Homo sapiens: one gene and its partners. The protein of the gene in region 1 interacts with the protein of each later gene in a biochemical or structural test. Each region holds a gene or a part of one and is shown in the gene's direction. Other genes may lie near its edges. The genes, in order: CREBBP, CARM1, PML, ESR1, HNF4A, FOXO1 and RELA.

Region 1 (4,256 bases):
GCCCGATCCTGGTGAATCCAAAGGGGAGCCCAGGTCTGAGGTGGGTGCCGCTCCCTAGGAATGCATTGACTGCGTATCGCAACTTTACCCAGGTGTCCTCGGGCGAGGCTTGGAGCCTGCCATGGGTATCCCTGACTTTAGTTAAAATATTCTGTTTGAATGTGGGTTCGGGGTTTGGTGTATAGGAAATTGATTGAAAACAGCTTGGTTTTTCATTTTTAAATATGAGGGGTGGGTTTATTTTGCCCGAAATGAAGAATACTGGCTTATATTTGAAATACTTGAATCATCCAACAGCCTTTTATTTTATGTTCTCCATTCATTTCTAGTTCTGCAGAGGTAGACTACAGAAGGGGTGGTGGATTCATTTACTAATTAACCTATGGCAGAAGCTGAAAGCTGGCAGACCGTGGGCTGGATCCAGCCTCTAAATGTGTTTGGCCCACACAATACCTTAAAAATCAGGAAATTGCAAATAAAACTCTAGATTTCTGGCTTTTCTTGAAAAATGAGATGCTTTCAGCATTGTGCCTGCATCCCTGTGTGACAGCAGTCTGGTTGTGAGCACCAACTGTAGTGGGCTCTCCAATTAGCCACAGTCCCCACTGCTCCTTCCTGTCTCATACCACACCTGCCTCTGAGAAGGACTTTTGGTCCCTGCCCCAACTTTCAAGGAGATTTTTATTCCAAATTAGAAATATCTGTAGTGAAAAATCTGAGTATGTGCAATTTTTAAAGCAGTTTTACATTTAAAAACTTTTAAATTAGGCTGGGAGCTGTGGCTCACACCTGTAATCCCAGCACTTTGGGAGGCCGAGGCAGGTGGATCACTTGAGGTCAGGAGTTCGAGACCAGCCTCGCCAACATGATGAAACCCCATATCTACCAAGAATATAAAAAATTAGCCGAGTGTGGTGGCACACACGTGTAATCCCAGCTACTCGGGAGGCTGAGGCAGGAGAATTGCTAGAACCCAGGAGGGGGAGGTTGCAGTGAGCCAAGATCTTGCCATTGCACTCCAGCCTGGGTGTTAGACTCTGTCTCAAAAAAAAAAAAAAAAAAAAAAAAAAAAAAAAACACTTTTAAATTTAGGACCATAATTGCACTGACTCTGTGCTGAAGCGACTTAATGAACACCAAGTACTTTATTTCTTCTTCCGGAAGAGAAGAGGAATCATAAATGCAACTCTGACTAGAGGAAGGTTTTAACAAACCTGTTTTAGGCTTGTAAGAGTCTTCCCGTGAGGTTGCGGTAACATAAAGGTGTTTGATATTCATATGTTATCTGTAATGTTTTTCTCAAGATGATGGAGGAGGATTTGCAAGGAGCTTCCCAAGTTAAAGAAGAAACAGACATAGCAGAGCAGAAATCAGAACCAATGGAAGTGGATGAAAAGAAACCTGAAGTGAAAGTAGAAGTTAAAGAGGAAGAAGAGAGTAGCAGTAACGGCACAGCCTCTCAGTCAACATCTCCTTCGCAGCCGCGCAAAAAAAGTAGGCCATTTATTCATTACCTTATTAAAGCATGCTGCTTTTCCACGGTGTTAGGATTCCATGTGGAGGATTAAAAGCTAAAGTAGAAACATAATTCTATCTGCCCTTTTACCTTTCTTGCCTGCCATTCCCCAGACTTTCCCCTGCAGAAACACTCAGGCTGAGCAGGACCCCTGCCCTGTGCCTGTGGGGCTCATGGCAGGAGTGAGAGATGAGCTGCTGCTCCGAGGGCACCCAGGCTGCAGAGCTGTCTTCTGATGGTGCTGGCAGGGGCCGAGTTGAAATGTGTCTGGGTCCTTGAGCAGGTTAAGGAGCTTGGCTTTACTCATAAAAGTATAAAGAACCAGTGATGTATGTGAGTAGGAGAATAACCAAAAAAGCCATAATTTAAGGAAGATGGTCATTATGACAGCACAGGGTGACTTGGAGGCAGAAGGTTTCTGCAGGTGCAGTGAGGAAGCTGAGCATGCAGAGTGAGGGGCAGGGTGGCGCCTAGGGACCCTGTGTAGTGAGACATGGGGGAGGGGTAGGTTAGGCATCTTTGGGGTCTGAGATGTGTGAGGTAAGCCCGCCTCACAGTGGAAGTTGGATGGAATCCATTTGAGATGTATCCACAGTAAAGAGATAACAGGGTATCAGAAAATTGTCAAGTGAACCTTAGAAATGGGAGACAGGACTCAGAAAGTCCAAGGCTGCAGATGACACTTTTGGGAAAGATTGCAGAGAAATGTTAGAGACTGAGACCATGTTACTCTGCAGCTGGAAGGGACCCTGGAGAGTGTGGAGTACAGTGAATCTCAGGGCTCTTTATACTCTTAGAAATTGAGGGCCCCAGAGAGTTGTTGTGTGGATTATCTATCATTGCTTACTCTACTGGAAACTAAAGTTGAGAAATTTGAGTACAGTGGCTTACACCTGTAATCCCAGCACTTTGGGAGGCTGAGATGGGAGGCTTGCTTGATGCTGGGAGTTCAAAACCAGCCTGAGCAACATAGCAAGGCTCCATCTCTACAAAACTAAAATAAAACTAGCTAAGTGTGGTGGTGCACGCCTATAATTCTAGCTGCTCGAGAAGCGGAAGCGGCAGGATTGCCTGAGCCTAGGAGTTTGAGGCTGCAGTGAGCCCAGATCACATCACTGCACTCTAGCCTGGGAGACAAAAGTGAGATTGTTGTCTGAAAAAAAAAAAGAGAAAAATTTTTAAATATTTAGTTCATTTAAAATAGTCTGTTACATGGCACCCATAGAAAACATTTATATGAAAAACAATTTTTCCAAAACAAAAATAAGTAAGAATAGTGGCGTTATTAAGGGTATCTGCCTCTGCATTTACTGTGTTGTGATTGGTTATTTTGGTTGAAGTGTATGAAGAAAATCCTGTAGTTGGTAAAGGGAGAAGTATTTTCGTAGCCCTTTCAGCTGATTGTGGATATTCTTTGATACTATACCAAAATTCAGCCAGTGAAGGTTTCTTAAAGGTTAGTTGCGACATTGAACCAGAATCTATAGCACTGGATTTTTCATAGTCTGTGACATTAGAATCCATTGATCCATCTTGTACTTGGAATGGATCTTTTGTGCTTGCATGATTTTTTTTTCAATTGACACTTAAGTTCTGCAGATTTTCCATATGTTGACATATTTCACTATACAGTGTCAAAAAAAAATCAACATTTGTTAATACCACCATCAGTCTCTTCAAACAAGTCTTACCAACTTAGAAAAGCAGGGCGTGCATGGTGGCTCACACCCGTAATCTCAGCATTTTGGGAGGCTGAGGGGGAAGGATTGCTTGAGCCCAGGAATTCAGGGTCTATGATTGCACCACTGCACTCTAGCCTGGAGCTCAGGAGTTCGAGAGCAGCCTAGGCAACATGGCGAAACCTAATCTCTATTAAAAAAAAATTAGCTGGGTATGGTAGTGCATGCCTGTAGCTGCAGCTACTCGAGAGGTTGAGGTGGGAGAATCACCTGAGCCTGGGAGGTCAAAGATGCACTGAGCCTTGATCATGTCACTGTACTCCAGCCTAAGTGACAGAGTGAGGCCCTGTCTCAAAAAATAATACTAATAATAAATTTTGAGAAGCTGTGAAGCCCATGTACAAGTTTTCCAAAGCATTTGATTTTTTTATGAAAGCCCAAATTTTAGCATTGGCAACAAATACTGTCAGTTGTCCTTGAAGTAACTGGCCCTCTTTGTTCATTTCTGAGAAAATGTCTGACATATAACCAGAGCTTAGTAACTATAGCTTATCTCTCAGTCATTCCTGAAAGTTTTAATGTGCTCCACGAGGGCAAGCAGCTACTTCAGCTGTAAATTCCAACACTTGCCCAAGTACTGCCTCCTGATGTGGCCACTGTGCCTATGCAGCGCACATCTTTTATTCTGTGTGAGGAGATAGGCAGAATGTTTCATCACACAGAATAAAAGACATGTACCAGGCGGCCAGACGCGGTGCCTCACACCTGTAATCCCCGCACTTTCGGAGGCCAAGGCAGGCAGATCACGAGGTCAGCAGATCAGGACCATCCTGGCTAATACGGTGAAACCCCGTCTCTACTAAACAAAATACAAAAAATTATGCGGGCGTGGTGGCGGGCGCCTGTAGTCCCAGCTGCTCGGGAGGCTGAGGCAGGAGAATGGTGTGAACCCAGGAGGCAGAGCTTGTAGTGAGCCGAGATACTGCACTCCAGCCTGGGAGACAGAGCGAGACGCCGTCTCAAAAAACAAAAACAAAAACAAAAACAAAACAAAAAAAAAA
Region 2 (4,256 bases), on another chromosome or scaffold:
ATTGTGTCCGCAGCGACACTCAGACTCCTTCCAGGTCTTCACGTGGCCAACGCTGCTGTCCTGAGCCCCTCTCCCACATGCGGTTGTGTCTGTAGGACACACCCTAGCCCTGGAATCGCTGGGTTGGGGGTGCATCCAGCTTTAGCTTTGGTGGCTGTTGTGATGTCTGCTCGTCCCCCTCTTTGCAGCCACCAGCAGTTGTCGACGCAGGGTGGGGGACCTAGGAGGCCGCAGCAGGGGACGGCCCTGAGGCAGGGCCGGGGTCACAGTGAACTCTCTTTTTTTTTGGGGGGGGTCTCACTCTGTTGCTCAGGCTTGAGTGCAGTGGTGCGATCCTGGCTCATTGCAACCTCCACCTCCCGGGTTCAAGTGATTCTCCTGTCTCAGGCTCCTGAATAGCTGGGATCCACCACTGCAACTGGCTAATTTTTGTATTTTTAGGCCAGGCATGGTGGCTCACACCTGTAATCCCAGCACTTTGGGAGGCTTAGGTGGGCGGATCACCTGAGGTCAAGAGTTCGAGACCAGCCTGACCAACGTGGCAAAACCCCATTAGCCAGGCGTGGTGGTGGGTGCCTGTAGTCCCAGCTACTCGGGAGGCTGAGGTGGGAGAATCGCTAGAACCCGGGAGGCAGAGGTTGCAGTGAGCCGAGATGGCGCCACTACCACCTCCAGCCTGGGCAACAGAGTGAGAATCTGTCTCAAAGAAAAAAAAAATAGTTTTTTTTTTTTGGTATTTTTAGTAGAGACAGGGTTTCTCCATGTTGGTCAGGCTAGTCTCCCAACTTATGAGGTCAAGCAGTCCGCCTGCCTCGGCCTCCCAAAGTGCTGGGATTACAGGCATGAGGCACCGTGCCCGGCCCACAGTGAGCTCTTAACAGGCTATGGCCAATCGCAGCCATGGTTGGGGCGCCAGCGAAGCAGGCAGAGGGGCACCCAATGCCCATGTGTGGATGGAGGCTGTCCCTTGAGAGCAGGTCTAGGGAGGGCCCCATGGCAGGAAGACGCAGGGAAGCCCACATGGCCCTGCCCGCCTGCAGGTCTTGGTGAAGAGTAACAACCTGACGGACCGCATCGTGGTCATCCCGGGCAAGGTGGAGGAGGTGTCACTCCCCGAGCAGGTGGACATCATCATCTCGGAGCCCATGGGCTACATGCTCTTCAACGAGCGCATGCTGGAGAGCTACCTCCACGCCAAGAAGTACCTGAAGCCCAGCGGTGAGCACTGGGGGGTACACAGGCCAGGCCCCTCGGTGGAGGCCCTGGCTGCCGCTGAGCCAGGCCATCAGTGCTTCAGCTCCCTGCTTACTGTCGGTGGCCCGGGGTGTAGGGAAGCCTGGGCTTTTCCCCCGCTCCCACCCCAACCCCACTCCAGCCAGCTGTGGCTTTTGGAGCCCTGGGCCCCAAACACGGCCAGACACCCAGCTGCCCACTCGCCCAGACAGGGTACACAGGATCTCCTGGCACCTCTGCCGTCCCATGTCCTGCTCCTGCGGGACAGCCTCTGGCTGGGAGTGGGGATTGGGACAGGTTCTGTGGTCAGCAGTTCCCCAACAAGCCCTGCTCTCCTCACAGTCCAGGAGGTGGGGTGGGCGAGCATGTGTGCAAATGCAGGGGTGTGGGTGCGAGTGTACGTGTGTGAGGAGGTGAGGTAGCTGTCTGGCAAGCCCATCTGTCACTTCCCATCCGTGCCTCTGGGTATGGCCTCTGGTCACTGGGTGACTGTTTCTTTTTTTGAGACAGAGTTTCACTCTTGTTGCCAAGGCTGGAGTGCAGTGGTGCGATCTCGGCTCACTGCAACCTGCACCTCCCCAGTTCAAGCAATTTTTGTGCTTCAGCCTCCTGAGTAGCTGGGATTACAGGTGTGCACCACCACGCCCAGCTAAGTTTTGTATTTTTAGTAGAGATGGGGTTTCACCGTGTTGGTCAGGCTGGTCACGAACTCCTGACCTCAGGTGATCTACCCGCCTCAGCCTCCCAAAGTGTTGGGATTATAGGCATGAGCCACTGTGCCTGGCCTGGGTGACTGTTTCTATTTGCCCATCTGTCTTGGGGTCTGTGCAGCCCTGACGCCTGAGGCATGTGCCTGTGGCTCTTCTCATGCTAGGTATGTGAGCGTCTGAGCATTTCTGTACAGGCAAGCAGCTGTGTGTGCGTGTGGCAGGGTACAGGTCCCCAGCCAGGGTAGCAGCCATGGGATGGAGCGTGGGCAGCAGCAGGCTGGTGGGGCTTGTGCAGGCAGGGGCAGGGGGGAAGCTTCCACTCTCATCTCTGGCCCGCCCTGGATCCAGGCCCTAGGGTCCTGGCTGGCTGTGCTCCTGGAGGTGGGAGGTGGCGTCCCACAGCTGTGTCTCATGTCTTGGGTGTGAGTATGGGAAGCAAGGCTGCTCCAGGGGCTGTGGGCCCCACTCTCCTCCCCTTCTGCCCTGATGGTGGGGATGGGGGTGGGGACAGCCCCAGCAGAGAGGGCCCCTCCCGATGGGACATGAAGCCAGATGGCAGTCAGGCTCTGTGGGCAGCTGCATGTGCCCCCGACGTCCCAGCAGCCAGCTTGCAGGGAGGGGGGAGGCCAGGCCTGTGCAAGGAGGACTCCTGTCCAGCTCAGGAAGCTCTTCCAGGGGTTAAAGGCAGCCCTCCCCTCTCCCAGTCACATGTCTTCTGGTCAGCAGGAGCCAGAGGTTCCTTCCAGGCTGGGTCACTTCCCATGGTGCCCCCAGGTCCCCCAGGGCAGAAGCCGCAGCATGTGCATCTCCCTCCCCGTTCCAGCAGCTGCAGCCCTGCAGCTCTCGCCTCGGGTACAGCCTGGTGGCGTAAGGAGGAGGCAGAGTCCCACTGATACCTCAGGATCTCCTCCCCCAGCTTGCAAGGCTGGGGGGCCCACATCTGGAGGCCAGGTGCTCCTTGGGGCAGGCGGGGCTGCGGGGCCCTGATCCTCCCTGCCACTGGCCCTGACTCATGCGTCTACCCTTGAGTCACAGAGGGAGGCCCTGCCCTTCCCTCAGTCTGTGTGCCCAGACCAGGCAGGCCAAGTGGCCCATCCTGCCGGCTGGGTGCCTGTGCCAGAACCTAGGCAGTCCCTGTGGTGTGGATTTGGCTTCCCCCACCTGGCTCTTGGCCTCAACTGAGGTCCCCAGCGGCGTTGGGGTAGCCCGGGGCCCACCACCCTCCCTCTGTCCAGAGCAACTTTGCTATGCTTTCCCGGCTGCACACATGCACAGACGGCAGGGCCTGAGAGGCAGCGCCTGGCCACATCCCGGGCACTGCCTGCTTCCCCGTGAGTCTTTGGCAGGTCCCTCACACCTGCCAGGTCTAGTAATAGGACATAAAGATGAGCCACCAGCCTCCCAGTCTCAGGTGGAATTCGTGAGCTGGTGCAGGTCAGGTACCCGTGGTGGTGATGAAACACTGATCAGAATAGGCGCTCGGTGCCACTGTCACAGGAGTGCAGGAACGAATGGATGACAGGCTGGGAGCACCCAGGGTTGGGGGTCTTGGGGTCCTTTGGAAGCTCTGCCAGGCAGTGTGGGATGTGTCACCTGACGCCAGCACCCCTCCCTGCCCCACTCCCAGGAAACATGTTTCCTACCATTGGTGACGTCCACCTTGCACCCTTCACGGATGAACAGCTCTACATGGAGCAGTTCACCAAGGCCAACTTCTGGTGAGTGTGCCCTGGGTGTCCCGCCTGGGCCCCACAGCCTGCCTTCTCAGGGACAGCCCCAGCTCCCCAGAGAGCCTGCACTCCTCTTTTTCTGAAAGACTTGGGCTAGATGAGGGCTGACTGGGAGAGAAGGCAGGGCTACCCCACCTGCCTCTTCTGCAGCCCTGACCTTGCTGTGGGGGTGGGGCCTGTCCACAGGTACCAGCCATCTTTCCATGGAGTGGACCTGTCGGCCCTCCGAGGTGCCGCGGTGGATGAGTATTTCCGGCAGCCTGTGGTGGTGAGTAGGGCCTCCAGGGTACTGCTGCAGTGATCACTTGCCATTGCTGTGCAGCTGTGCAGCCCTCAGGAAGCTACAGCCCCTCTCTGAGCCCTCTCCTCTGCCCTGCACAGCGCTCTCACAGAGATTTGGGCCAAAAGTGTCAATGCATGTAGACACTTAGCACACAGCACACATGCAATACATGTGGAACATTATTAGGTGAGGCTAAGGCAGAGGGGGCATTTAGGCTCAGGAGTTCAAGATCAGCCTGGGCAACACAGAGACGCCATCGCTATTTTTAAAATTAAAATAAATAAATAATAAAAATAAAAA
Region 3 (4,256 bases), on another chromosome or scaffold:
ACTCTGGGAGACTGAAACAGGAGAATTGCTCAAGCCCAGGAGTTCAAGACCAGCGTGGGCAACATAGTGAGACCCTGTCTCTACAAAAAAATTTTTTTAAAAAAAGGAGGTGATGTGATGGAGAGTTTGGAGGACTTCTTGTCCCCAGTGAGCTCGGAGCTTTGAGTCAGGGAGCCTGGACCTGTGACTTGGTGAGGCCCCAGGGATTAGGCCAACCACAGGTCTGGGGTACCTGGCCCTGGGGCTGCTGCCTAGTCATTTCTGACTCAATTTTCCCAACTTTGCAGCCCGAGGAGGCAGAGAGAGTGAAGGCCCAGGTTCAGGCCCTGGGGCTGGCTGAAGCCCAGCCTATGGCTGTGGTACAGTCAGTGCCCGGGGCACACCCCGTGCCAGTGTACGCCTTCTCCATCAAAGGCCCTTCCTATGGAGAGGTAAGGTTCTCCCCAGCCCCAGCCTTCCCTCCTGAAGGCCTGAGTTCCACCAGGAAAGTGAGCTGGCACTGGGGTGGGAATCCAGGCCTTCATCAGATCAGCTCTTTGTGGGAAAGTGTTTGCTCAACGCCTTCTCTGTGCTCTCCCCTGTTCTTGGCTGCATGGTCAGGGAGCTTCCCATAAGCATGGCCCACTCCCAGCCCAGCAGGGGTGCTGAGACACTCAGGGTTGTCAGAGGCCAGCAGAGACTGGTGGACAGCAGATAGTACCAGCTTGGGAAGGCTTCCTGTCTGAAGAGAGACGTAATCTGCGTGGTTGAGAGCAGAGGAGAGGGGACAGCAGGAGCAAAAGGGTGGCCACAAGTCCCTGGCAGTCAGGGCAGGCTCTGCCCACTCACCCCTGCAGGCACCTGACCTGGCTCTGTGACTCCCTCTATGCAGGATGTCTCCAATACAACGACAGCCCAGAAGAGGAAGTGCAGCCAGACCCAGTGCCCCAGGAAGGTCATCAAGATGGAGTCTGAGGAGGGGAAGGAGGCAAGGTTGGCTCGGAGCTCCCCGGAGCAGCCCAGGCCCAGCACCTCCAAGGCAGTCTCACCACCCCACCTGGATGGACCGCCTAGCCCCAGGAGCCCCGTCATAGGAAGTGAGGTCTTCCTGCCCAACAGCAACCACGTGGCCAGTGGCGCCGGGGAGGCAGGTAGGGAGGTGGGTAGGGCAGTGGCCTGGGTGCTGCCCGCCAGGGTCTGGGCGGTGCCCCTCTTCTGTATTTTGGCCCCATCCAGAAAGCCCAAAGCCAACAGGAGTCCCTTATTCCCACTGAATAAGATAGGGAAAGTTCACAGTGTGCGTGGGGGTGAGAGTGGACACAGTTTACCATGTGTTTTGCCATGATTGAGGTGTGGGGAGCCTGACAGGCTAAAATGCACAGTTCTATGAGTCCTTTCTCCCAAACACTACTGTGCCTTTGCACAGGGCAGGTCTCCACAAGAAGTTTGTTGGCTGATGCCTAGCATACTCCCAGAGAGGGCTTGGGCATACCATAACAGGAAACTGGACTCCCCATGACCTTAACTCTGCTCTCTCAGTCTACACCCATCATTTCCCCAAGTGTTTCTGCAAAGGCCACCTACCTAAGTATCTCATTTGTCAGAGTTATCTTCTATGAACACTGCCAGGCAGGTAGTCAGTTGGGCAGGAGTTGAGGTCAACCCAGAGGAATCTGGAACAAGAGAGTTCTAAGGATCTGCTTCACCCAGAGTACAGCTTTGTTCCTCATTCTGACTGAGCCCTAGCCTTGGTCACACACTGAGCACTGACTGATATTCCTTACCCACAAATGCTATTGGTAATCGATGGGTTTTGATTAACTAAATGAAGCGTCTTTTAACTCTAGACATCCCAGCTCATGGAGCTGAGAATGGGGACAGTGTGCTTCTTTAGGATTGCAGAAGGTTCCAGACCAGGTAGCAGTTGTCAGGCCTCCTGTACAGGGGGCAAATTCTGAATTCTGGGCAGATAACTTAATTGAATATTCATAGATAAGGCACAGCAAGAAATTATGGAAACCCATTTGTGAATTACTCAAATCCAAATGCAAAGCAGAGTCACATTGGCACACACAGTGGCTGTTCCCGTCCCCCTGCAGGGCATCCGTTTCCCCCAGCCGACTGGCCTGCAAGGATTCCCATAGGTGCACACCCACACCCCTCCCAGCATGCATCCTAGGCAGTTCATAATGCATCTCCCCTTCCCCGTTTCAGAGGAACGCGTTGTGGTGATCAGCAGCTCGGAAGACTCAGATGCCGAAAACTCGGTGAGTGGCCCAGAAGTTCAGCCCAGGACTCCTGCCTCCCCCCATTTCAGGTCCCAGGGGGCACAGCCACAGCAGGTGACTCTCAGACTTGCCTTGCGCCTGGGGAATTTTCCAGTGAGGCATTGAGTCCCAAGCTGTGCTGAGGACAGTCTCCAAATGACAGCTGCATGCCTGGACCACCCCAGCCCTCCCACTACACCAGGGCCAGGAGCTCTTCTGAAATGCTGATAGCATGTGTCCAGAGCCCTGTCTCTTTTCTGGAATGTCCAAGACCTTTGTCTGGAGCTTCCTTATGCATTTTCTGTCCTCTAAGTCCTCAGTGAGGAGGGCTGGACAAGAATCCATTCCTTGGTTTATTACAGCCAGTGGGGGCCAGTGAAGGGGTGTCAGGCCACAGGGCAGCTATATAGGGGCCAAACAAGTGAGGTTTGACTCCATCCATGTAGAAAGATATATAAATCCATTCCACAGTGAAACAGGTGGCCTCGTGGGTAGTGACCCTTCTGTCCCTAGAGGTTTATTACTAGAGGCTGGACTATCACCTGTCCAGGGGAAAAGGGGATCTGAATAGAGTGAAAGGTTGGACTGGGTGGCCCCTGAGGTCTCTTCCAGCCCTCAGTCTGAGGTTCTGTATTGGAAAGTGCATGGAGCCCATGGAGACCGCCGAGCCACAGTCCTCGCCAGCCCACTCCTCGCCAGCCCACTCCTCGCCAGCCCACTCCTCGCCAGTCCAGTCTCTGCTGAGAGCACAAGGAGCCTCCAGCCTGCCCTGTGGCACATACCACCCCCCAGCTTGGCCTCCCCACCAGCCCGCTGAGCAGGCTGCCACCCCCGATGCTGAGCCTCACAGCGAGCCTCCTGATCACCAGGAGCGCCCTGCCGTCCACCGTGGGATCCGCTACCTGTTGTACAGAGCACAGAGAGCCATCCGCCTTCGCCATGCCCTCCGCTTGCACCCTCAATTGCATCGGGCCCCTATTCGGACTTGGTCTCCCCATGTGGTCCAAGCCAGCACTCCTGCCATCACAGGGCCCCTCAACCATCCTGCCAATGCCCAGGAACATCCTGCCCAGCTGCAAAGGGGCATCAGCCCACCCCACCGGATACGAGGGGCTGTGCGATCCCGCAGCCGCTCCCTCCGGGGCTCCTCCCATTTATCCCAGTGGCTCAACAACTTTTTTGCCCTCCCCTTCTCCTCCATGGCTTCCCAGCTTGACATGTCTTCCGTGGTGGGGGCAGGGGAAAGCAGAGCCCAGACTCTTGGAGCAGGTGTTCCCCCTGGGGACTCTGTCAGAGGCTCCATGGAGGCCTCTCAAGTCCAAGTGCCTCTGGAAGCCTCTCCAATTACATTCCCACCACCCTGTGCCCCAGAAAGGCCCCCCATCAGCCCAGTCCCAGGCGCCCGTCAAGCAGGCCTCTGAGAGTGCTACCCTTCTCTTGTAACCTTGCAGCCAACACCCCTGCCCGGCCCCTGAGCTGCCTCCTCCAGCCCATGCTCTTACAGGCCCTGCACAGAGTAGCACTCATTAATTCTTGGTTAAGGAATGAATCAACGAATGAATGGCTATGCATGGACCTCTGGGCAGGGAGACCTGGGTCTTCTCTGGCTGAGAGGGGAAGGCTAAGGCATGGCTGAGATTCAAGCCACCATTCCAGGCCTCTTTGCCCAAGAAAGAAACTTCTGTCACCCTTGCACTCTCCTGTATTCTGAGTCCCTGGCCAATAGCACAGCCTTCCATGCCCCGACCCCCACCCCAAGCCTCTCCACTAGGCCTCTGCCAGGATCTAAGCCCATGAGCACAGGGACTGGCTATCCCAAGACCTGGCAGATGTGGCTGCTCAATAAACACTTGTTGAACCATCACCCTTGCGAACCCTTATTCCACGACCATCGCGTTCTCCGATGGATCCAGCTCCTCCCTGCAGGCTGTTCTCTCTTCCCTATGCTGGAACTCAGTTCTCCTCTGGGGATACCATGTCCCCTCTTCCTCCCACACTCATGGGCATCAG
Region 4 (3,802 bases), on another chromosome or scaffold:
TTTCATGGCAAGTCTCCAACTTGAGCTGAATTTTCCCCTACTAAAAATGCAAATTTTTCTAAGACCTTCTCTTGGTCCTGCTACTCATGATACATATTTCTTTTAAAAGAAATTTCAAACTAGATAATAGTTGTTCTCCTCCCCACCCCCGCCACCAGTAGTGTGGTGGGGCAGCAGAGTTGTGGCTAGTGGAGGAGAGCAGAGGAGGAGAGTAGGGAAAGGAGAATGCCATTTGCCTACATTTCCCTCTGCCCATTTCCCGCTGCCCATTTCCCCCCTTGTTTTCCTGAACGTGAACTGAGCTCTGGGCACTGTTTTAGGCCTAGCAGGGGACAGGATAAAGCCTGCTTCTCTAGGAATTCGCACTGAGGGTGTGAGTGTGTGCACGTGTGTGTTTGGAGGCGGGAGAATAAACACAAATAAATAAAAAGGAGAATTTCAGGCAGTGATAAGAGTGCTGAGAAAAACAGAACGGTGTGAAAGAGGAAGGCTGAGCCTGCAGAGGCTTGAGGCTGCTGCCACTGGGTAGCGGTAGGCCTTTCCGAGGAGGCGGCATTTGAAGACCGGAGGAAGGTTCATCCCAGCAAGTAGGAACAGCAAGTGTAGGTCCCCTAAGTCTTGGGGGAGCTTAGTTCCTTTAAGGGCAGCACAAAAATCAGTGTGGCTCCGGAGAGCACATTAGGGGAGAGAGGCAGGAAGAGCTTGGAGACATGGATGGAAGCTGGACCAGTTGGGCCTTGTTGAACATGGAAAGGCATTTAGATCGTATTCTGAGTTAAATGGGAAGTGACGTGAGAGATTTAACAATGGAGCGTCTTGAACTGCTTTACTCATTTAAAATACCCACTCCTGCTTGGCTGAATATCTCATGTTGTCTTTTTAGAAGCTTTGGCGATCCTATTTGAATGCATTTAGGTCCTATTGGAGGGGAATAGGATCTCATTTGAGGCCACGGAGGTCCATGGAAGTCACCTGCATAGCAAATACCCTGAAAGTGGCTGCAGGGAGAGTGTGAGGGTGGGACCGCCCTGGTAGGAGGTGGAAAATGAAAAACACACGGCCATGAGTTCCAGATTAGGGCTTCTGAAAGCCCTCAGCTTTCCCAGCTCCCATCCTAAAGTGGGTCTTTAAACAGGAAGAAAGAAAGATTGCTAAGTGTCTTTGGAGTTCCTCTTCCTTCCCCTTCTAGGGATTTCAGCACTCCTGGGGCTCGGGTTGGCTCTAAAGTAGTCCTTTCTGTGTCTTCCCACCTACAGTAACAAAGGCATGGAGCATCTGTACAGCATGAAGTGCAAGAACGTGGTGCCCCTCTATGACCTGCTGCTGGAGATGCTGGACGCCCACCGCCTACATGCGCCCACTAGCCGTGGAGGGGCATCCGTGGAGGAGACGGACCAAAGCCACTTGGCCACTGCGGGCTCTACTTCATCGCATTCCTTGCAAAAGTATTACATCACGGGGGAGGCAGAGGGTTTCCCTGCCACGGTCTGAGAGCTCCCTGGCTCCCACACGGTTCAGATAATCCCTGCTGCATTTTACCCTCATCATGCACCACTTTAGCCAAATTCTGTCTCCTGCATACACTCCGGCATGCATCCAACACCAATGGCTTTCTAGATGAGTGGCCATTCATTTGCTTGCTCAGTTCTTAGTGGCACATCTTCTGTCTTCTGTTGGGAACAGCCAAAGGGATTCCAAGGCTAAATCTTTGTAACAGCTCTCTTTCCCCCTTGCTATGTTACTAAGCGTGAGGATTCCCGTAGCTCTTCACAGCTGAACTCAGTCTATGGGTTGGGGCTCAGATAACTCTGTGCATTTAAGCTACTTGTAGAGACCCAGGCCTGGAGAGTAGACATTTTGCCTCTGATAAGCACTTTTTAAATGGCTCTAAGAATAAGCCACAGCAAAGAATTTAAAGTGGCTCCTTTAATTGGTGACTTGGAGAAAGCTAGGTCAAGGGTTTATTATAGCACCCTCTTGTATTCCTATGGCAATGCATCCTTTTATGAAAGTGGTACACCTTAAAGCTTTTATATGACTGTAGCAGAGTATCTGGTGATTGTCAATTCATTCCCCCTATAGGAATACAAGGGGCACACAGGGAAGGCAGATCCCCTAGTTGGCAAGACTATTTTAACTTGATACACTGCAGATTCAGATGTGCTGAAAGCTCTGCCTCTGGCTTTCCGGTCATGGGTTCCAGTTAATTCATGCCTCCCATGGACCTATGGAGAGCAGCAAGTTGATCTTAGTTAAGTCTCCCTATATGAGGGATAAGTTCCTGATTTTTGTTTTTATTTTTGTGTTACAAAAGAAAGCCCTCCCTCCCTGAACTTGCAGTAAGGTCAGCTTCAGGACCTGTTCCAGTGGGCACTGTACTTGGATCTTCCCGGCGTGTGTGTGCCTTACACAGGGGTGAACTGTTCACTGTGGTGATGCATGATGAGGGTAAATGGTAGTTGAAAGGAGCAGGGGCCCTGGTGTTGCATTTAGCCCTGGGGCATGGAGCTGAACAGTACTTGTGCAGGATTGTTGTGGCTACTAGAGAACAAGAGGGAAAGTAGGGCAGAAACTGGATACAGTTCTGAGGCACAGCCAGACTTGCTCAGGGTGGCCCTGCCACAGGCTGCAGCTACCTAGGAACATTCCTTGCAGACCCCGCATTGCCCTTTGGGGGTGCCCTGGGATCCCTGGGGTAGTCCAGCTCTTCTTCATTTCCCAGCGTGGCCCTGGTTGGAAGAAGCAGCTGTCACAGCTGCTGTAGACAGCTGTGTTCCTACAATTGGCCCAGCACCCTGGGGCACGGGAGAAGGGTGGGGACCGTTGCTGTCACTACTCAGGCTGACTGGGGCCTGGTCAGATTACGTATGCCCTTGGTGGTTTAGAGATAATCCAAAATCAGGGTTTGGTTTGGGGAAGAAAATCCTCCCCCTTCCTCCCCCGCCCCGTTCCCTACCGCCTCCACTCCTGCCAGCTCATTTCCTTCAATTTCCTTTGACCTATAGGCTAAAAAAGAAAGGCTCATTCCAGCCACAGGGCAGCCTTCCCTGGGCCTTTGCTTCTCTAGCACAATTATGGGTTACTTCCTTTTTCTTAACAAAAAAGAATGTTTGATTTCCTCTGGGTGACCTTATTGTCTGTAATTGAAACCCTATTGAGAGGTGATGTCTGTGTTAGCCAATGACCCAGGTGAGCTGCTCGGGCTTCTCTTGGTATGTCTTGTTTGGAAAAGTGGATTTCATTCATTTCTGATTGTCCAGTTAAGTGATCACCAAAGGACTGAGAATCTGGGAGGGCAAAAAAAAAAAAAAAGTTTTTATGTGCACTTAAATTTGGGGACAATTTTATGTATCTGTGTTAAGGATATGTTTAAGAACATAATTCTTTTGTTGCTGTTTGTTTAAGAAGCACCTTAGTTTGTTTAAGAAGCACCTTATATAGTATAATATATATTTTTTTGAAATTACATTGCTTGTTTATCAGACAATTGAATGTAGTAATTCTGTTCTGGATTTAATTTGACTGGGTTAACATGCAAAAACCAAGGAAAAATATTTAGTTTTTTTTTTTTTTTTTGTATACTTTTCAAGCTACCTTGTCATGTATACAGTCATTTATGCCTAAAGCCTGGTGATTATTCATTTAAATGAAGATCACATTTCATATCAACTTTTGTATCCACAGTAGACAAAATAGCACTAATCCAGATGCCTATTGTTGGATACTGAATGACAGACAATCTTATGTAGCAAAGATTATGCCTGAAAAGGAAAATTATTCAGGGCAGCTAATTTTGCTTTTA
Region 5 (3,080 bases), on another chromosome or scaffold:
AGCTGGGCTTCCAGAAAATGAACACAGCAGTTCTGCAGAGGACGGGAGGCTGGAAGCTGGGAGGTCAGGTGGGGTGGATGATATAATGCGGGTGAGAGTAATGAGGCTTGGGGCTGGAGAGGACAAGATGGGTAAACCCTCACATCAGAGTGACATCCAGGAGGAATAAGCTCCCAGGGCCTGTCTCAAGCTCTTCCTTACTCCCAGGCACTGTCTTAAGGCATCTGACATGCATCATCTCATTTAATCCTCCCTTCCTCCCTATTAACCTAGAGATTGTTTTTGTTTTTTATTCTCCTCCTCCCTCCCCGCCCTCACCCGCCCCACTCCCTCCTAACCTAGAGATTGTTACAGAAGCTGAAATTGCGTTCTAAGAGGTGAAGTGATTTTTTTTCTGAAACTCACACAACTAGGAAGTGGCTGAGTCAGGACTTGAACCCAGGTCTCCCTGGATCAGAACAGGAGCTCTTAACTACAGTGGCTGAATAGCTTCTCCAAAGGCTCCCTGTGTTCTCACCGTGATCAAGTTGAGGGGCTTCCGGCTCCCTTCTACAGCCTCAGAAACCAGACTCGTTCTTCTGGGAACCCTGCCCACTCCCAGGACCAAGATTGGCCTGAGGCTGCACTAAAATTCACTTAGGGTCGAGCATCCTGTTTGCTGATAAATATTAAGGAGAATTCATGACTCTTGACAGCTTTTCTCTCTTCACTCCCCAAGTCAAGGGGAGGGGTGGCAGGGGTCTGTTTCCTGGAAGTCAGGCTCATCTGGCCTGTTGGCATGGGGGTGGGACAGTGTGCACAGTGTGGGGGCAGGGGAGGGCTAAGCAGGCCTGGGTTTGAGGGCTGCTCCGGAGACCGTCACTCCAGGTGCATTCTGGAAGCATTAGACCCCAGGATGGAGCGACCAGCATGTCATCCATGTGGAATCTTGGTGGCTTTGAGGACATTCTGGAAAATGCCACTGACCAGTGTGAACAAAAGGGATGTGTTATGGGGCTGGAGGTGTGATTAGGTAGGAGGGAAACTGTTGGACCGACTCCTGCCCCCTGCTCAACACTGACCCCTCTGAGTGGTTGGAGGCAGTGCCCCAGTGCCCAGAAATCCCACCATTAGTGATTGTTTTTTATGAGAAAGAGGCGTGGAGAAGTATTGGGGCAATGTGTCAGGGAGGAATCACCACATCCCTACGGCAGTCCCAGCCAAGCCCCCAATCCCAGCGGAGACTGTGCCCTGCTCAGAGCTCCCAAGCCTTCCCCCACCACCTCACTCAAGTGCCCCTGAAATCCCTGCCAGACGGCTCAGCCTGGTCTGCGGTAAGGCAGGGAGGCTGGAACCATTTCTGGGCATTGTGGTCATTCCCACTGTGTTCCTCCACCTCCTCCCTCCAGCGTTGCTCAGACCTCTGTCTTGGGAGAAAGGTTGAGATAAGAATGTCCCATGGAGTGCCGTGGGCAACAGTGGCCCTTCATGGGAACAATCTGTTGGAGCAGGGGGTCAGTTCTCTGCTGGGAATCTACCCCTTTCTGGAGGAGAAACCCATTCCACCTTAATAACTTTATTGTAATGTGAGAAACACAAAACAAAGTTTACTTTTTTGACTCTAAGCTGACATGATATTAGAAAATCTCTCGCTCTCTTTTTTTTTTTTTTTTTTTTTTTTGGCTACTTGAGTTGTGGTCCTAAAACATAAAATCTGATGGACAAACAGAGGGTTGCTGGGGGGACAAGCGTGGGCACAATTTCCCCACCAAGACACCCTGATCTTCAGGCGGGTCTCAGGAGCTTCTAAAAATCCGCATGGCTCTCCTGAGAGTGGACAGAGGAGAGGAGAGGGTCAGAAATGAACGCTCTTCTATTTCTTGTCATTACCAAGCCAATTACTTTTGCCAAATTTTTCTGTGATCTGCCCTGATTAAGATGAATTGTGAAATTTACATCAAGCAATTATCAAAGCGGGCTGGGTCCCATCAGAACGACCCACATCTTTCTGTGGGTGTGAATGTCATTAGGTCTTGCGCTGACCCCTGAGCCCCCATCACTGCCGCCTGATGGGGCAAAGAAACAAAAAACATTTCTTACTCTTCTGTGTTTTAACAAAAGTTTATAAAACAAAATAAATGGCGCATATGTTTTCTAAGTCCTTGGATAAGTATCTTTTCTTTCAGGTATCAGAAATAAGACTGAATCTTCTGGTTCTACTTGGGGGTTAAAAAATTTTTTTTAAAGGAAGAATGAGAATAGTTTTATAGTTCTTTGTGATGTGCAGAATGTTTTTGTGTCCATTATAATTTTTCAGTCTTCACATCAAGAGGTAAGCAGTTAGACATGATTACTCCCACTTTCCAGATGAGGAGACTGAGGCTTGGGGGAAGTGACTTCTCTTGGAAGGCAGAGGTGGACATCTAACCCTGGTCTCTTGATTCCAAGTACTTAGTATATCGAGAGAGTGAAAGTTGATCCCCCTTCTTGAAGAGGGGAGTGATGAGGGGAGAGTGCAATGGCAAGATCTGGAAGAATGGCAAGAGGGTCCAAGGGTCTGTCATCCTCCACCAAGGTTCAAGACAGAACCTTTTGCTGGGTCACCTCAATCTGCCAGCAATGGAAGATGAGTAGCTGTGGGGACATTTCATAAAAGCAAGTGGTTTTTTTGTTTTGTTTTGTTTTGTTTTTTGTTTTTTTTTCTAGAACAAGGCTGTGCACAGTGGCTCACCTCTGTAATCCCAGCACTTTGGGAGGCTGAGGCGGGAGGATCACTTGAGCTCAGGAGTTCGAGACCAGCCAGAGCAATATAAGGAGACCCCATCTCTACAAAAAATTTAAAAATTAGCCAGGTATAGTGGTGTGTGCCTATAGTACCAGCTACTCTGAAGGCTGAGGTGGGAAGATTGCTTCAGCCCAGGAGTTCGAGGATGCAGTGAGCTATGAATGCAACACTGCACTACAGCCTGGATGAAAGAACAAGACTCTGTCTCAAAACATAAATAATAAGTAAAAAGAATAAAAGCAAGAGATGCACTTGAGAATCTCCAGCCAGATCTGTAGCCACTGGGCTTCTCTCCAAGGCTAAACTATTACAGGAG
Region 6 (4,256 bases), on another chromosome or scaffold:
ACAAGGCCCTTCCTTCTGGGGAGCTCACAGCGTTTCCCTCGTCTCCTTTTCCACGTGTCCCACGGACTCCCCTGAACACCATCTTACTCTGTGTTGTAGAGGAGGTGAATCAAACCATGGCTTTCTCATCTGCAGCCTGGCTCTGGTGTTTCTGCTGAAACTTGGAGAGACCACCTCTGGCCCCTTTCACCATATATTTGCAGTTGTGGGTTTGTATCTGTACTACTTCTAAGCTCCTATACATACCACACTGAATAGGAATAGAGAAGCAGGACTTTGGGGCGCAGGATACCACTATTCTAAGTTGGGGTCTAATATTCCCTTCATGGTGACTGCTTACATGCCAGGCACCGCTGAGCATTTTTATGTATCTCATTTAGTACATGTAACAACCCTGATAAGGCTCTGTAATTTAGCCCTGCTTTACAGGTGAGGAAACTTAAGACACATTAGGGGCTAGGCAGCTTCCCAAGGTCACCTAGGTAAGTAAGTAGCAGAGCCACCCAGGAAGTACTCAAAAGAAAGATTGTTGGTTTTTCTTCCCTAGTTGGCCTAGGGATGATAAACATGGCATGATTAGTTATGAAGCTGCGGTAGCTTGAGAGTTAGAGCTCTTTGCGTTCTCTGTCATTTCTTCCCATCCCAGGTTGTCTGTTTGGACAGTGTAGCCCCTGGCTACGTGGAGGTGTGTCATGGAGTTAGTTGGTGCATCCTGCTCATACTACTGGTCATTGGTAGAACTGGAGGGTAGGGGCACTACTTGAATTAAAAAAAAATTTCTTTTGGCAGGTCAGCTTTCTCAAATACAAAAGCAATGACTCTGTTTTCCTTACATTCACTTGTATTTGCTTAATGGGCTTTAAAGGTGTGAATGAATCCAAGTCTTATTAATTTGGGGGCCTTTAATTCTTGATCAGCTCTATATTTCTATATTCTTTTTTTTTTTTTTTTTTTGGCGACAGAGTGTTTAACTCTTGTTGCCCAGGCTGGAGTGATCTCAGCTCACCGCAGTCTCCTTCTCCTGCCTCAGCCTGCCAAGTAGCTGGGATTACTGGCGCCTGCCACCACACCCGACTAATTTTTGTATTTTTAGTAGAGATGGGGTTTCACCATGTTGGCTAGGCTGGTCTTGAACTCCTGACCTCAGGTGATCTGCCTGCCTTGGCCTCCTACAGTGCTGGGATTATAGGTGTGAACCACCATGCCTGGCCTATATTCTATATTCTATATATTCTATATTCTTTTGTCTTTTTTGTTTCTGTAAGTATGTGGGCCCAGTAATATAAAACTTCTTTATGTAAATGGCACAGGTTCAAACTGAAGAGAATTGGCAGTAGTTTTAAGGATAGTAGAATGGAAGGGGTTTTTGATAGCACTTTGATACAGAGTACTATTGTAGCTAAGCAAAATTTAAGCGGTTATTAAAACCAATTCCTTTGATTTTTCCATAAAATGTAGCTGTATAAAAGAAGGTATTTACAATACTCTTTATTAAATTTTGTCCCTTCATTAAATTAAGATATAGAATTTTTTTTTTTTTTTTTTTGAGATCGAGTCTCACTCTGTCTCCCAGGCTGGAGTGCAGTGGCACGATCTCGCCTCACTGCAAGCTCCGCCTCCCAGGTTCACGCCATTCTCCTGCCCCAGCCTCCCGAGTAGCTGGGACTACAGGTTTGCACCACCATGCCTGGCTAATTTTTTGTATTTTTAGTAGAGATGGGGTTTCACTGTGTTAGCCAGGATGCTCTTGATCTCCTGATCTCATGATCCGCTTGCCTGGGCCTCGCAAAGTGCTAGGATTACAGGCGTGAGCCACCGCACCCAGCCACAGATATTGTTTTTAAGATAAGATACTATTTATTCCTGTGCTATTTGAGATCTTTTGTAGTGGCTTCAGAGCCATTAGGACTGTTCAGATGGAAATCTGTAGCACACACTCTTAAGATTTTTTACTTGTTTTCCATGTAATACATGTAGAATAGGAAGTTTTGCAAGCAGAGAAGTATTGTACTTCTAATAAGATGTTTTGCCTTACAGAATTCAATTCGTCATAATCTGTCCCTACACAGCAAGTTCATTCGTGTGCAGAATGAAGGAACTGGAAAAAGTTCTTGGTGGATGCTCAATCCAGAGGGTGGCAAGAGCGGGAAATCTCCTAGGAGAAGAGCTGCATCCATGGACAACAACAGTAAATTTGCTAAGAGCCGAAGCCGAGCTGCCAAGAAGAAAGCATCTCTCCAGTCTGGCCAGGAGGGTGCTGGGGACAGCCCTGGATCACAGTTTTCCAAATGGCCTGCAAGCCCTGGCTCTCACAGCAATGATGACTTTGATAACTGGAGTACATTTCGCCCTCGAACTAGCTCAAATGCTAGTACTATTAGTGGGAGACTCTCACCCATTATGACCGAACAGGATGATCTTGGAGAAGGGGATGTGCATTCTATGGTGTACCCGCCATCTGCCGCAAAGATGGCCTCTACTTTACCCAGTCTGTCTGAGATAAGCAATCCCGAAAACATGGAAAATCTTTTGGATAATCTCAACCTTCTCTCATCACCAACATCATTAACTGTTTCGACCCAGTCCTCACCTGGCACCATGATGCAGCAGACGCCGTGCTACTCGTTTGCGCCACCAAACACCAGTTTGAATTCACCCAGCCCAAACTACCAAAAATATACATATGGCCAATCCAGCATGAGCCCTTTGCCCCAGATGCCTATACAAACACTTCAGGACAATAAGTCGAGTTATGGAGGTATGAGTCAGTATAACTGTGCGCCTGGACTCTTGAAGGAGTTGCTGACTTCTGACTCTCCTCCCCATAATGACATTATGACACCAGTTGATCCTGGGGTAGCCCAGCCCAACAGCCGGGTTCTGGGCCAGAACGTCATGATGGGCCCTAATTCGGTCATGTCAACCTATGGCAGCCAGGCATCTCATAACAAAATGATGAATCCCAGCTCCCATACCCACCCTGGACATGCTCAGCAGACATCTGCAGTTAACGGGCGTCCCCTGCCCCACACGGTAAGCACCATGCCCCACACCTCGGGTATGAACCGCCTGACCCAAGTGAAGACACCTGTACAAGTGCCTCTGCCCCACCCCATGCAGATGAGTGCCCTGGGGGGCTACTCCTCCGTGAGCAGCTGCAATGGCTATGGCAGAATGGGCCTTCTCCACCAGGAGAAGCTCCCAAGTGACTTGGATGGCATGTTCATTGAGCGCTTAGACTGTGACATGGAATCCATCATTCGGAATGACCTCATGGATGGAGATACATTGGATTTTAACTTTGACAATGTGTTGCCCAACCAAAGCTTCCCACACAGTGTCAAGACAACGACACATAGCTGGGTGTCAGGCTGAGGGTTAGTGAGCAGGTAAGTTCACCCCAATATCAAAAGACCTTTTGAAAAATAGAACTTAAAAGCGAGGAACACAGTAACTTGCCATGGTTAGCACATCTTTGATGTCAACTGACTGTCCCTTGCAGAGAGGGATCTTTTATCATTCATTCTCTGTCCTTTTTGCAGCTTACAGTTTTCCTTCTGAGCTTACACAGAAGGAAGCTTCCTTTAACTGCTTTAAAGATTTCTTTTTGACAGTTCGATGGCTGCATCTTTTTAGTAGCTCTTCAATAAATGAATACATTTGATATAAATCAAATGCTGAAGGGTTTTTTGTAAAGTAGAATTTTCCCCATTGAATGATTTTAGAGCTGTTTGAGAAAGCTCTAGCTTTTTGCCCCTAAGTATGTCTGTCACTCTTAACATGTTAAGTTGAATTGATTTTAATTTGGCTATATTTTCATTGTGTGTGTATGTGTGTGTGCGTATGTATGTGTTTTTTCCTAGGTTACACTTAAAAGTACTTCAGATTGTCTGACAGCAGGAACTGAGAGAAGCAGTCCAAAGATGTCTTTCACCAACTCCCTTTTAGTTTTCTTGGTTAAAAAAAAAAACAAAAAAAAAAACCCTCCTTTTTTCCTTTCGTCAGACTTGGCAGCAAAGACATTTTTCCTGTACAGGATGTTTGCCCAATGTGTGCAGGTTATGTGCTGCTGTAGATAAGGACTGTGCCATTGGAAATTTCATTACAATGAAGTGCCAAACTCACTACACCATATAATTGCAGAAAAGATTTTCAGATCCTGGTGTGCTTTCAAGTTTTGTATATAAGCAGTAGATACAGATTGTATTTGTGTGTGTTTTTGGTTTTTCTAAATATCCAATTGGTCCAAGGAAAGT
Region 7 (4,164 bases), on another chromosome or scaffold:
AGTCCCAGGAGGGGACATGACATTCAGGCCACAGTGGAGTCAGTGCTGGGTTCTGCCTCCTCTAGGACTTGTGTTTCACACACGCACCAGCGGCCCTCCCAGCGCAGAGCTCCCTGCCCCCACTGATAGCACCTATATCCCCACTTCCCCTGCTCTCCTGATCGCCTGTTTTCTTGGCAGTTCCTATAGAAGAGCAGCGTGGGGACTACGACCTGAATGCTGTGCGGCTCTGCTTCCAGGTGACAGTGCGGGACCCATCAGGCAGGCCCCTCCGCCTGCCGCCTGTCCTTTCTCATCCCATCTTTGACAATCGTGAGTAGCGAGGGAGACGCAGGAAGGGGAGAGGGTGGGCCTGAATAGGAGGAAGGGGGTTGGGGTGAGTGTGGCCTGCAAGAGGCGCTCTGGCTTCATTCAATCATCTTGCGTATTTGTCTACTCTTCTCTGCCCAGCTCTTTGTTGGCTGGGGAGAGAGGGCAAAGAAGACCCAGAGCTGTCCTTGAGGTGTAGCTCTGGCCTGGCAGGAAGTCTAGCAGAGAGTCTGATGGGAGATGGGCATTTTCAGTATTGTGTGATGAGAAGGTGGTGTGCCCACAACTGCGATAATGACTCTAGGAAATGAACTCCCAGGAACAAGATAGTGTTCGAGAATGATGATTCAGTGATGGAAGCCCACAGATGAATTGGGCTGACTGATCAGCTGCAGTCTTTAGTTAAGTAACCAGCAGGATGAATGGAAATAAAACGAATCTGGAGCCCCAAGGATGGGAAACCAGGATAAACTGGGGGTCAGGAGGGAAGGGCTCATTGCCAAGGTGGGTATGGACTGGCCTTAAAGATTGCTTTGGTCAGGTGGAGAAAGAGTGTGATCAGATTGGCACCCACTGGACTATAAGCTCCGGGAGAGCAGAGAGGTTTGGGTTTTGTGTGTGGTCGTATTCTTGCTTAGATCAGTGTTGAGTGCACAGTAGGCAAATACTTGTTGAATCGGTTGGGGTGAGGAGCTAATAAGAAGGTCTGACTTTGGCTACAAAGGTGTAGGTGGCAAGCTCTGGGCAACCTTGACTCTGGGCTGGGCAGGGAAGTTGCATCTCCTGCAGGCCACCCTGGGGACCTCTCGTGGCTCAGGTCATCCTCCCTTGTTTTCACTGCCTCAGGTGCCCCCAACACTGCCGAGCTCAAGATCTGCCGAGTGAACCGAAACTCTGGCAGCTGCCTCGGTGGGGATGAGATCTTCCTACTGTGTGACAAGGTGCAGAAAGGTATACATCAGGAGGCAGGGGTGGGCTCTTGGGAGCAAGGGGTGAAGCTGAGCAGAGAAGTGGAGTGTCAGGTAACTGGCTTTGGATACTTCCTCCTGTGCCTCGGGGGCCTCAGGTGGGCCGAAGGGTGATGTATCAGAAGACAAGCATCAGAAGTTGAGGGGGAGACCATGGAGGGTTAGACACACTGACCCACACTGCCACCGCATCTCCTGCAGAGGACATTGAGGTGTATTTCACGGGACCAGGCTGGGAGGCCCGAGGCTCCTTTTCGCAAGCTGATGTGCACCGACAAGTGGCCATTGTGTTCCGGACCCCTCCCTACGCAGACCCCAGCCTGCAGGCTCCTGTGCGTGTCTCCATGCAGCTGCGGCGGCCTTCCGACCGGGAGCTCAGTGAGCCCATGGAATTCCAGTACCTGCCAGATACAGGTACACAGCTGGGGTGGCAGCATCAGGGCAGCTGGGCTCTGTGCCGTGAGAGAGAGGCCAAGACTGCATGTCTGGGGCTGTGGTTGAGGGCCAGAAGCTGGAGTCAGAGCTTGGGATCCAAGAAACTGGAATCCATTTCTTGCCTCATTTAATAATAATGATACCTCAGACATTGAGCTAGTACTACACATCTGCCCCTATTCCAGGCACTTCACTGGATTACCTGATTTTAATCTCATGACCCTTTTGAAGTAGGAGATAGTGTCCAACTTGCCTGGGTTCACGTGGCTAGTAAGTAGCAGAGTCTAGCAGAGTCAGCGTTGGAACCCAGGCCATCTGGCTTCAGGATCCTTTTGCCACACTGGTTGTCTTGTCACTACCATACAGCCCAGCCACATTTTGGTCGAGGTTTGAGTGTCCACTTGGTACCAGGGCCTGTGCCAGGTATTGTGAATACAAAAAATGAGTAAGACATGCTCCCTGCCCTTCAGAGTCTCAGTCACTTGAGGAAGACAAATGTGCAAAACAGATCCTTAAGTCACGGAATGACATGTGAAATGGAGGTGTGCGCAGAGAAGCACGGGGGCACAGTGGCCTCCGGGGAGCTGGAGACAGCTGCATGGAGAAGGTGGCATTGAAGCTGGAGAAAGACACAGAAGTGTGTTCTCCAGGCAGGTGGCCCAGCACCTGGAAGGGAAGGGGTGTTGGCAACTGCACGGCCTATTCAGGGCCACCTTCGTGGTTTGAGCTGATGTTGGGCAGTGAGCAGGCTCAGAGATTGGAGGGCCTGGTTAAGCTGAAGGCCTCTAAGCAGAGAGGTGACAGGAGCAGATTTGGAAGTTGACTCAGGAGGCCACGTGTAGAAGATCAGAGACAGACAGACTCAAAGCAGGGAGGCCATTCTGGAAATGTTGCTGTAGTCCAGGAAGAGAAGATGCGGCACAAACCTTACAGAAGGAATAGCAGAGCAAGATCACATCTCCACCACTGTCCTCAGTTACCCTTCAGCCCTGCAGCCGTTTTGCGTCTTACAGACCAAGCTCAGTCTCACCTCAGGACCTGTGTCTAGCTGTTGCCTCTGCTTGGAATGCCCAAGGTTTTAATGCAAGTGGCTCATGCCAGTCCTTCCCTGACCTCTAAATTAGCCCTTCCCTCTACATTTAGACTGTCCTGACCTCACTTCCAGTATTGTTACATCACCATATCGTCCCTGGACCACCGTCACTTGAGATTTTCTGGTTTGGTTTTGTTTGTTTGTTTGAGACAGAGTCTCACTCTTGTCGCCCAGGCTGGAGTGCAGTGGTGCAATCTCGGCTCACTGCAACCTCCACCTCCCGGGTTCAAGTGATTCTCCCTGCCTCAGCCTCCCGAGTAGCTGGGACTACAGGCGCCCGCCACCACATCCGGCTAATTTTTTGTATTTTTAGTAGAGACGGGGTTTTCACCATGTTGGCCAGGGTGGTCTCGATCTCTTGACCTCGTGATCCACCCGCCTCGACCTCCCAAAGTGCTGGGATTACAGGCGTGAGCCACCACGCCTGGCCGAGATTTTCTGGTTTGTATATATGATTGTGTCCCTCTCACTTTTTCACTAGGATGCCAACTTTTTGGGAGCAGACACCTTGTGTGCATACTCACGGCCACATCCCCAGTGTCTAGAAGGGAGGCTGGCACATAGTAGGTGCTTGATAAATATATGTCAAGTTACTGGCGGGGAGTGAGAGAAAAGAAGATAATCATTCCAAGGTTTCTAGCTTTGGTGACAGGGCAGATGGCGGATGGTCAGGGAATGCAGGAGAAAGAACCTAGTTTTTGAGGGATGATGAGGTTGTCTTTGAATTGATGGAATTGAAGTGCTTTGGAGCTACTGAAATACCACTGTAATTAGAAAGACAGTTCTGAAAGCTCTGACTAAAATATGAAACCATTAGAGATAAGAATAAGAGTCTCTGCTGAAGTCTTAAGGCAGTTGTGCCTCAGCTGCCCCAGAGTGCCAAGAAATTCTCGCCAGGCCTGGGTGGAGGCTGACAATGAGCCAGGATGTGAGCAGTGCAGGAAGGTGTGAGCTGGAGGCTGGGGCCCCCCAGGTCTCCTCTTTGCCCAGAGCATGGCCCCTGTACTCGGCCTCACCATGTGGTCTTAGAGGGGCAGATTCAGCCAACAGAGGCCTCCAAAAGCTGTGGGATTCTCAGAACTGCTGAGTGTCACACATCCCTTCTCATTGGCAGAGAAGGTTGGGAGAATGGGTCTTGGGAAAGCCTGGCTCCTCCCCTTCCTCCTGAGGGACCTTTGAGAGCGTCGGGGACCCACCTGAGGAGAGCAAGTCCCACTTCTCCCCCTTACTTTCCCAGACGATCGTCACCGGATTGAGGAGAAACGTAAAAGGACATATGAGACCTTCAAGAGCATCATGAAGAAGAGTCCTTTCAGCGGTGAGATGGGGACTGGGAAAGCCAGAGAGGAAGGCAGCGGG

Evidence for each region.
Region 2: of the proteins of CREBBP (region 1) and CARM1, one has a biochemical effect on the other in vitro, tested with the Homo sapiens proteins (4 studies listed by BioGRID, with this or other methods).
Region 3: the proteins of CREBBP (region 1) and PML form a complex in vitro, tested with the Homo sapiens proteins (2 studies listed by BioGRID).
Region 4: the proteins of CREBBP (region 1) and ESR1 form a complex in vitro, tested with the Homo sapiens proteins (2 studies listed by BioGRID).
Region 5: the proteins of CREBBP (region 1) and HNF4A form a complex in vitro, tested with the Homo sapiens proteins (4 studies listed by BioGRID, with this or other methods).
Region 6: the proteins of CREBBP (region 1) and FOXO1 form a complex in vitro, tested with the Homo sapiens proteins (3 studies listed by BioGRID, with this or other methods).
Region 7: the proteins of CREBBP (region 1) and RELA form a complex in vitro, tested with the Homo sapiens proteins (9 studies listed by BioGRID and IntAct).

What each region holds. Positions count from the first base shown.
Region 1 is NC_000016.10:3,764,958-3,769,213, reverse strand, and holds part of CREBBP (CREB-binding protein), read left to right. Parts: coding exon 1-40; intron 41-1,304; coding exon 1,305-1,494; intron 1,495-4,256. UniProt on the Homo sapiens protein: Acetylates histones, giving a specific tag for transcriptional activation. Mediates acetylation of histone H3 at 'Lys-18' and 'Lys-27' (H3K18ac and H3K27ac, respectively).
Region 2 is NC_000019.10:10,912,837-10,917,092, forward strand, and holds part of CARM1 (histone-arginine methyltransferase CARM1), read left to right. Parts: intron 1-1,040; coding exon 1,041-1,218; intron 1,219-3,570; coding exon 3,571-3,661; intron 3,662-3,859; coding exon 3,860-3,941; intron 3,942-4,256. UniProt on the Homo sapiens protein: Methylates (mono- and asymmetric dimethylation) the guanidino nitrogens of arginyl residues in several proteins involved in DNA packaging, transcription regulation, pre-mRNA splicing, and mRNA stability.
Region 3 is NC_000015.10:74,032,285-74,036,540, forward strand, and holds part of PML (protein PML), read left to right. Parts: intron 1-287; coding exon 288-431; intron 432-871; coding exon 872-1,130; coding exon of another isoform or gene 1,131-1,138; intron 1,139-2,193; coding exon 2,194-2,246; coding exon of another isoform or gene 2,247-2,372; exon of another isoform or gene 2,373-2,887; coding exon of another isoform or gene 2,888-3,667; exon of another isoform or gene 3,668-3,722; coding exon of another isoform or gene 3,723-3,776; exon of another isoform or gene 3,777-4,110; intron 4,111-4,256.
Region 4 is NC_000006.12:152,097,476-152,101,277, forward strand, and holds part of ESR1 (estrogen receptor), read left to right. Parts: intron 1-1,256; coding exon 1,257-1,491; 3' UTR 1,492-3,802.
Region 5 is NC_000020.11:44,430,709-44,433,788, forward strand, and holds the end of HNF4A (hepatocyte nuclear factor 4-alpha), read left to right. Parts: 3' UTR 1-2,137; downstream 2,138-3,080. UniProt on the Homo sapiens protein: Transcriptional regulator which controls the expression of hepatic genes during the transition of endodermal cells to hepatic progenitor cells, facilitating the recruitment of RNA pol II to the promoters of target genes. Activates the transcription of CYP2C38.
Region 6 is NC_000013.11:40,558,642-40,562,897, reverse strand, and holds part of FOXO1 (forkhead box protein O1), read left to right. Parts: exon of another isoform or gene 1-209; intron 210-2,037; coding exon 2,038-3,375; 3' UTR 3,376-3,389; intron 3,390-3,863; 3' UTR 3,864-4,256. UniProt on the Homo sapiens protein: Transcription factor that is the main target of insulin signaling and regulates metabolic homeostasis in response to oxidative stress.
Region 7 is NC_000011.10:65,655,814-65,659,977, reverse strand, and holds part of RELA (transcription factor p65), read left to right. Parts: intron 1-180; coding exon 181-312; intron 313-1,155; coding exon 1,156-1,260; intron 1,261-1,478; coding exon 1,479-1,691; intron 1,692-4,042; coding exon 4,043-4,123; intron 4,124-4,164. UniProt on the Homo sapiens protein: NF-kappa-B is a pleiotropic transcription factor present in almost all cell types and is the endpoint of a series of signal transduction events that are initiated by a vast array of stimuli related to many biological processes such as inflammation, immunity, differentiation, cell growth, tumorigenesis and apoptosis.